Linked DNA regions of Homo sapiens: region 1 is linked to region 2. The links come from fine-mapping of genetic effects on gene expression. A gene starts in region 2. The other region holds a variant in brackets. All regions are shown on one strand. Distances are between the middles of the regions.

Region 1 (4,401 bases), 75 kb after region 2:
GAACAGCAAAGCCTAGGTAAAGGAAATCTGTTAACAGCATAGTTTACTGAATATCTTCATCTCACTGTTGAGACACATTACTCAGAAAAAAAGATTCCTTTCAAAACATTACTGCTCATTGACAATGCACCTGGTCACCTAAGACCTCTGATGGAGATGTATAAGGAGATTAATGTTATTTTCACGCTGCTAACACAGTGTCCTTTCTGCAGCCCATGGGTCAAGTAGTAATTTTGGCTTTCAAGTCTTATTTTTTAAGAAATGCATTTCATAAGACTATAGCTGCCATAGATAGTGATTTCTTGATGAATCTGGGCAAATTGAAAACCTTCTGGAAAGGATTTGCCATTCTAGATGTCAGAAAGACCATTCATAATTTATGGGAGGAGGTCAAAATATCAACATTAACAGAAGTTTGGAAGAAGTTGATTTCAACCTCTGTGGATGCTTTTGAGGGTTCAAGACTTCAGTGTAGGAAGGAACTGTAGATGTGGTGGAAATAGCAAGAGAACTGATATTATAAGTTCAGCTTGAAGATTGGACTGGATTCCTCCAATCTCATGTTAAAACTTGAATGGATAAGAAGTTGCTTCTTATGGCTGAGCAAAGAAAGTGGTTTCTTGAGATAGAATCTACTCTTGGTGAAGATACTGTGAACAGTGTTGAAATGACAACAAGGAATCTGGAATATTACATAAACTTAGTTGATAAAGCAGTGGCAGGTTTTAAGAGGAGTGACTCCAATTTTGAAAGAAGTTCTCTTGTGGGTAAAATGTTATCAAACAGCATCATACACTACAGAGAAATCTTTTGTGAAAGGGAAATTCAATCAATGTGACAAACTTCATTGTTGCCTTATTTTTAAAAAGTGCTGTAGCCACCCCAACTTTTAGCAACCACCATCCTGATCAGCAGTGGTCGTCGAGGCATGACCCTTTACCAGCAAAAGATTAGGACCCATTCAAAGCTCAGATGATCATTAGAATTTTTTAGCAATAAAGTATTCTAAAATTAAGGTAAGTACATTTTTTAGACATAATGCTATTGCACACTTAATAGATTGCAGTATAGTATAAACATAACTTTTAAATGCACTGGGAAACAAAAAAAATAGTATGGCTCCTTTTATCGTGATGTCTATTTTATTGCAGTGGTCTAGAACTGAACCCACAATAACTTCAAGTTGTGCCTTGTAACTATTATTGTTTTCAGGCTCACTTCCATGATGTCAGGGGCATCAGATACATGCTCTTATTTTTTTCTAAAGTCAGATCCAATACTACAGCCAATAATTCTGTATGAGATGTATTAATAGAAAGGAAAAATCTATAGTTTTCTCTAATTGCATTCGTCTTCTCAGAGAACTGGGCACAGCTATGGGGGGTAAAAAATGCCTAACAGACAATCTCGCATCTTGAAAATATTTTGTTTTAGAAGGATAGTTTGATTTTTTTCCTCAATGTAATAAGTTGGCTGCAAAGAATGGGGAAGGAAGGTGGGGGAAGCATAAATTTCTGATTTTAATTTTTTTTTGTTGTTTATTTTTAGAGCTTCTCTCTTACAGAAAAAAAGTGTTTGCTTTTTTGGATTCTGAAGTAAAAATAACAGAACGAAGCCTTAGTGAATTCTTATACCGTGCCAGGCTCTGAACGCTTTATGCTCAAACAGCCCTCTGAAATAGGAAAGCTTTTATCCTTCATAGTTTTATAAATATGAAATTTGATGCACAGATTGCCTATGGAACTTACCCAAGGTCATCTGGCCTGTGTGTCAGTAGCCCAACTATGAATCCAGGTAGGTTTACTTCAGAGCCCAGCTCTTAATTCCAGTACTGTACCACTGTTATATAACAGAAAGATTTTCTGAGTTACAGATGCAATTTTAAATATTCTTGTAGTCACACTTAAAAAAGGAAAAAAGAAATGGGTGCAATTAATTTTAATAATATATTTTTATAGAACCAACTATGTCTAAAGTATGACCATTTCAATATGTAATCAATATAAACATTTTAATGAGATATTTTGTATTTTTTCATACTTCACTTTTAAATCCAATGTGTACTAAATGCTTCTGCAGATCTCAATCTGGACTTGCCACATTTAAATGCTTCATAGCCACACAGGGCTGGTGGCTGCCCCACAGAAAGCACAGCTTCACCA[T/C]CTGTGCAGCTAAAGTCACTTGACATTCTATTTATATCTTCTATGTTTACATAATCTTTATTCTTTTTGTTTTGGTATCTTCAAGAATGTAGAGACCAGAGCACTAAAACTGAAAGTAACTTTGGGGGCCGGCGGGGAAGGAAGAAAACCCGTAGTAATATTGTTATTGTCTAGGGGTTTCTAATAATGCCTACAGAAACTGATGCTCTTAAGAGCATTTTCTCAGATTTCTGAAATCTTTTGAGTTCCATTGCATGCCCATTTAAGAACATGAGGCTCATTTACCATATTTCCCCCTTGGCCAAGCAGAAATCTAAAAATAAACTCTTAGTTCTTAGGTTTGACCTAACTCTTTATATAAATATCCGTTTGCAGTTGTTATTTTAGAAAAAAATTCAATCCCCTAAGTCTTTTGGTTAAAACTTTAGGAAACTGATTTCTCTCCTGAACACTTCCTTCCTCTAAACCACATAGAGTTTGGGATGTGGGGGAAGGAAGCAACAGTCACATTTTATTTTGTTTTTTGTGTTTCCCACAAGAGAACAAAAGAGACAACCCCCACTCCACAAAATTTTTCTGCCATTTCCCTTTTCACCACCAAATTTTAAATGATGATTCGTGTGTGAAAAATTGGTCCCTTGATATAAAATTGAACTGTAAACTTTGTAGAGCTTTGGTCTGAAAAAGAATATCTTATCAAGTTTGGAAGTGCCCTATGGAAAACTGCCATGTCACATTTTCCCCTTTCTGTATCTCTGCCAATGTTTCCCCAACACCCGATGCACAGCAGACAGCAATAGAGAGTGCTTGTTGAAGTAAATTTCTTTTAATTAATTGGGGGAAATTCGATACAAATTTTGGATTCACTATTTTAAAAGAAAAGTGGTTTGTTATTTCCAAGTATATTGATGGAAACAGGAGAAATATTTGCATGAGAAAGGAATGATTTGTGAGGAAGAAATGACCTAAAGATGAGTTGGAAACTACTGGAACTTACAAGGCTCATCAGCTTCTAGGGGGTTCCTCCTTGACCCTATCTTTAAATGAAATTTTAATATAAACAAAATGTAAAAATTAAAAATAAAACAAAATATTTAAAAATACGTGTACAATTTTGGTCAAGAGAGATGTTAAGGTAGGTAGGAAACTTAGCAAGAAAACATGGTTATATTTAACTGGATTAGAATGAAGGAATATATATATATGTGTGTGTACATATATACATATATAGTCATGCATTACTTAACAATGGGGATACATTTTGAGAAATAAATCATGAGGTGATTCCACCACTGTGCAAACATCATAGAGTGCTTACACAAACTTAGATGGTATAGCCTACTACATGCCTATATGGCATAGCCTATTGCTTCTAGGCTATAAACCTTTGCAGCTTGTGTCTTTACTGAATACTGTGTGCAATTGTAACACAGTGGTAAGTTTTTAATATGTAAACATATCTGAATATAGAAAAGGTAGTGCAAAAATACAGTATTATAATCTTATAGGACCAATAATCTTACAGGAACACCGTCGTAAAAGAGGCCCATCATTAACTGAAATGTCATTATGCAGTGCATGACTGTGTGTGTGTATTTGTGTGTATTTGAAGACATATCTTATACAAAACAATGGATTGGGAAAAATATATGCAGTCAGAATGCCATCAGAAGACATGTAAGTGATATTCCTAATGTACAAATGACTACTAAAAGAAGTTGTAAATAAAGAAAAGAAAATGGGCCACAAACATTGTATTTTCACTAGTGAATCAAGGAAATGAAAAATATAAGAAAATTAGATGGAATATTTCACACACCAGATAAGCAAAAATTTAAAGAAGAAAACACTGTCCAACATTAGTGAAGTAGGCCCTCTACTTAGCTGCTGGGAGTGTGACTTGCTCAAACCTTTTTAGAAATTAAACTGGAAATGGCTATTACAATTTAAAACATCATACACTTTTATTTAGCAATCCCAATTGAGGAATTACCAGTACATAAACACATGTCTATTAAAGGGTTTATTACTTATAAAGTAAAAGCTCTGTAATAAACAGGTGATTTTTCAGGTGGCAAAAACCTGAAAACAAGTTGAATGTTCATTACAGAGGGAATAGTTGAATAAATTATGATATGGTAATAATATGGGACATTATAGATCTATTAAAAATAATGATGGCCGGGCACGGTGGTTCACGCCTGTAATCTCAGCACTTTGGGAGGCCAAGGCAGGCGGA
Region 2 (4,401 bases):
AGTATCTATACTTATGCACTTACTTTTGTAAAACACTTTTGTTGCTATAAGCTCCATGAAGAGAAAATGCCCAGTGGAGTACCTGAAATCTAGAATTCACTCTCATGAAATGGTGAGAAAACTGAAAGACTTTGTCATTTACAGAACAAAATAATTTCTCCTGTATACACTACTGACAAAGTACACATGCATTATTTAAGAGAATTTTGGTTATGAAAAATGTGTGATTTTACTGTTTAGAGAAAAAAATGCAGGTTATCATGATAACCAAAAGTTTACACACCATTGTCTTGCAATACAATCTGTGACGACAATATTTCAATACCATTGCCGGACTAAACCTTTAACATTAATTATTTATCAAAATTATACATGCCACTAACACATCTCAACAAAGAAGATTATGTAAGTGAGCTGCCTTGGCGTCAGTAATACTGAACACAGTAGCTATTTTCAATCCTTCATTAAAATTAGATCAAGATGTACTTGCATTATGTGTTGCTGTTCCTGTAAGGAAGACTTACATTAGTTTTAAGATTTACTTTGGGTATAAGTGACATTTTCCTCTCTTTTTTGACATTTCTTTTTCTTCTTTGTCCCCTCCTCCACTGCCCGCACCCCCCCAACCAAAAAAAGTTTTCAGTATAATACAGAAAACAAAAACACAAACACCTGCCCTGTTCACTCTCTCTTATGCATAATAAATGCTTTGTTCTCCCCCTCAACTGGATCCGGCAGGGATCGCCCGGGGGCACCTGCCACTTCACCCTCAGACTTGGCTCTCTGTCCCCACCCTGGCCCCTAGGATTCCAAATGGTGCAGCAAAATACGACAATCCTAAGGTTCGTAAAATAAGCAATGGATAGTGAAGGAAAGCCTTTAAATGTTAGTGTTTTAAAACATCAGACTTAAAAGTTACTTCTGAGTAGGCTGAAAGGTGAATCCAGGCGCATGTAAACATATCCTGGCCTATCGCTTGATAACTCGCGCACCGTGTTGAGGCCCTAGGAAAATCTCAAAAACGGAGATGTAGTCTAAAAACTGGACGACAGCATAGACCACGTTGCTGTGGCCCCACATATTACCCACGAGAAAAATCTAAGTGGTAAAGTCACTGGTCCAAGGTCAAGCTGAGCCAGTCGCAGGCAGGGCTAGTCCGCGACCTTCTAACCTTTCCATCTCCCACCCAGCCGCGCACAGGCCCTTGGTCGCGCCGGCACCCGAAGAGTTCCCACGGATACGGTTCCCAAGTCAGTGGCATGTCAGTGCCCTTCAAGCTACCGCAATTTTATTTGTTCTCCCCGCCAGCTCCATAAAGTATTAAAGGCTCTCTCCACGACTTCTTCCCAAGCCCAGGTGCCCTAAACCACTTGAGCCCACGGCGCCTAAAGCCGACTCACCCGCAGCCCGAGGTGCGGGAGCCCTCGGACGGACTCCGGCCCGCCCCGCAGTCCCCACCGGCCGCGCTGCGGCCCCGGCTGACGACGAGTCGAGAAAGTCACCCGCGATGACCGCGGACGCGAGGGGCGGGCCGCGTCGCGCCGCCCCGCGGAGGCGCCGCAAACTTTTCCCGGTTCGCAAGTTGCCGGGATCTGCGGCCGCGGACCGACTTCCTTCGCCGGCCACCGGAGGGAGGGGGCGCCCCTACCCCGGGAGGGGGCTGGGCGAGCCGGGAGACGGTCAAGTTGGGGTCGGGGGAGCGCGGGCGCTCCGCACTCTGGGGCACGCGGGGACGAGCCCGGCCGCATTGTCTGCGCGGCCTCGGAACAAGCACGGCCGGCGGTGGCACCGGCGGGCGCGGGGAGGAGTTGCCGTCCCCTTTCGCCGCCGCCGCCCACCGCGTTCTTTGTGTGTCTCTCGCCGCCCTCCAGCCGCTTCGCCGCTCGCCTGACAGCTGATGGGCTCACCGCGCCGGGTCCCGCGTCCTCTCGGCCGCAGCCGGCGGAGCCCGGCCCGGCAGGAGGAGGAGGGGAGAAGAGGAGCGTTGACAGATGCTGTCTTGGAGCGGGCACCGCCGGGGGAAAAGTCTGGACTGCCTCGGCGAGAAGCGGCCGGTAGGCAACCGGCCCCAGCCTCGCATTCGCCTCAAAGACCCCAATTGGCTAGGAGCCCTTCCCTCCGCAGCGGCTCGCGCAGCTCCGCTCTTGCGCCCCGCGCCCGGCTCAGCGGACGGACTAGCGCGCCCGGTCAAGAATCCTGGGGAACCCGCTCCGCCCCCTGGCTCCAGCGCCCTCCAATGATGTCGGCGTACAGAGGGCTGTTCCGCCCAATCAGGTGTCGGAAAGCCCAGCCAGTCCCCGGGAGTGTAGCCAATAGAAGGCGACTCCGGCAACACACCCGCCCTGATCCACTAGGAACAAACCGCTCCGAGCCCGGGTGGTGGGACCGATCCTGGAGCCCAGATCAAGCCAAGTCCGGCCAAAGCTGTGTCGCAAAGTAAGAATCTGAAGACAGGTCCGGTGCTTAAATGACTATTATTCTAAAGAGTTGAAGATGGGAACGGTGGACGCACAAAATCTTTACCCTCGGCTTAAAACGCCTTTTCTGGCAAAAGTTTGTGTATGAAAGAAAGCTGAACAAACACGTTGTAGCACTGTTTAAGTGAAGGCCTTTCCTTTTAGAACACTGCTTTACAATGCCTAATCAGCCGGCGCTCAGGTTGGTGCATTCAGAGACCCGAGCGTTTGTGTTCCTAATAAGTTTGCTAGAATGTCAGGTAACTGAAGCAGGTTAGTTTCTATCCTGCCCCAAAACACAGACTGTCACTGGCACCACCATGTTGTGGTTTTTTCCATGAATGAAAATATAAGAGTTCTGTATGTAAATCATCTTTATTGTGAACTTTATTTCTATAATAAAGTCACACAAACTATCTTTAGTGGAAGTTGGATGAAATACCGGAAAAGAAGAATGTAGAGATAGATGATAGATATGTAGGATATCTCTATCCATCTGCCACCCATCTATCTATCAAGAAAGGACTTGAGTAAAGCACTGGCTATAAACGACTGTACCTTTTGATCACAGGACCTTACAAATAATAGGCACACTAGTTATTTGTTTATTTGATTTGAATAGGATGACTCATTTGTTACTGTTCATATGAAGTTTATAAACTTCATTGAGTTGTTTACTGAAAGTGGACTACACCATGACGAAAACAGTATTTGGCAACACATATTTGCATCTTTTAAAATAAAATTACACTTATTTGTACTTCAAATAGTTACGTCAGTTTATTTCTTCGGGTAATAAACTGTGCATTTAAAAATTTTTGTACACATGTGGCATGTTCCTTCTTTATAAATTATTTTGATGACCAAATACATTTTTTAAAGGGTGATCTGTACAATGAACGGAAAGAAGAGAGAGATCTCAAACAAGAAAAATATGGCTATATTACCTCCTTGCTTTCGTGATTGAAACTCACCATGACTTACCACATTAAGTTCGGGGGATAACATGACCCCTGAAATAAAGTTTTATCAACAGATCCAGGTTCTGGATTGACCTTGAGCCAATCTCTTAATGACTAACTCTGTTACAAGAGAACAATACGCCTGGCTCTACCTGCCTCCTTGGGGTGCTGTAAGATCCCTCCAAGATAGTGTTTGTCAAGCACTTTGCTTTCTGTAAAATACTGTGCCAAGTGCAGAACAGTCTTAAATGTGTTATTATTCTCTGTTTATTATCAGAACATTAATATTTCCTCGACTGCACATTTTTTCAACTGAAGTATATTTTTGAGCCCATCAGTTTTCTCTCAAAATAGATCTGAATGAAACTCCTGCCTGTTCATTCTAGATCAAAGCAGTACTTTCAGGGTTTCTTTCTCTTTTTTAATGAAGAGGATGTTAGAAGAGAAGAATACTGAGGAAAGAATTCTGGATGGAAAACGTTCGAGAAATTTTATTCACTCTTAGTGTATTCCTCTTAGTATATTCCTCAAAAACAAGATGTATCATAATGTCCAGTTTAATACTCTGTTCATAATGTTTAAAAACTTAAGCAAGTTTCAATGTATATGCTTAAAATAAGTTAACGTATCCCATGTCTGCTAATATAGTTTTAGATGGAAGTTGTAAATGGCTGGGTCAAAGTTATACCCATAAATCAATTACTGAATTTTAAATTTTGGGGGCATTTATTGAAGATTCACTTATCACTTTTGTACTTGTCAAAGAGGAAAATAAATGTGTATTTTTAGATTCCATGTGTCATAATATGTTTACTTTTTCCCAGAATATGGAGTCTAGTACAGAAGTTTAATTACTACTTCAAACAAATGTACATATGGTAACACTAGAATGTAAAATTTGCTGAATTTAGTTGAACCAGCAGTTGTAATTTTCAGTTAATTAACTGTATGTATTTCATTTTCTGAGTGAAAATTGTGGAAGA

What was found. PIP is the estimated chance that this variant, and not a neighbour inherited with it, causes the effect.
Region 1: its variant is fine-mapped to the expression of LINC00472 in tibial artery (GTEx, PIP 0.92).

Annotation. Positions count from the first base shown.
Region 1 is chr6:71,493,932-71,498,332 of GRCh38, forward strand. No RefSeq gene overlaps it. Among named protein-coding and RNA genes, the nearest start is that of LINC01626, 75 kb to the left of the region's middle. RefSeq lists an enhancer at 2,104-2,303. The variant T/C (reference allele first, on the strand shown) is at 2,163.
Region 2 is chr6:71,418,666-71,423,066 of GRCh38, forward strand. It overlaps LINC00472 (long intergenic non-protein coding RNA 472), which reads right to left and starts at 2,080. Exons shown (of 3, transcript NR_121614.1): 1 at 1,401-2,080. It overlaps LINC01626 (long intergenic non-protein coding RNA 1626), which reads left to right and starts at 2,362. Exons shown (of 8, transcript NR_121615.1): 1 at 2,362-2,436.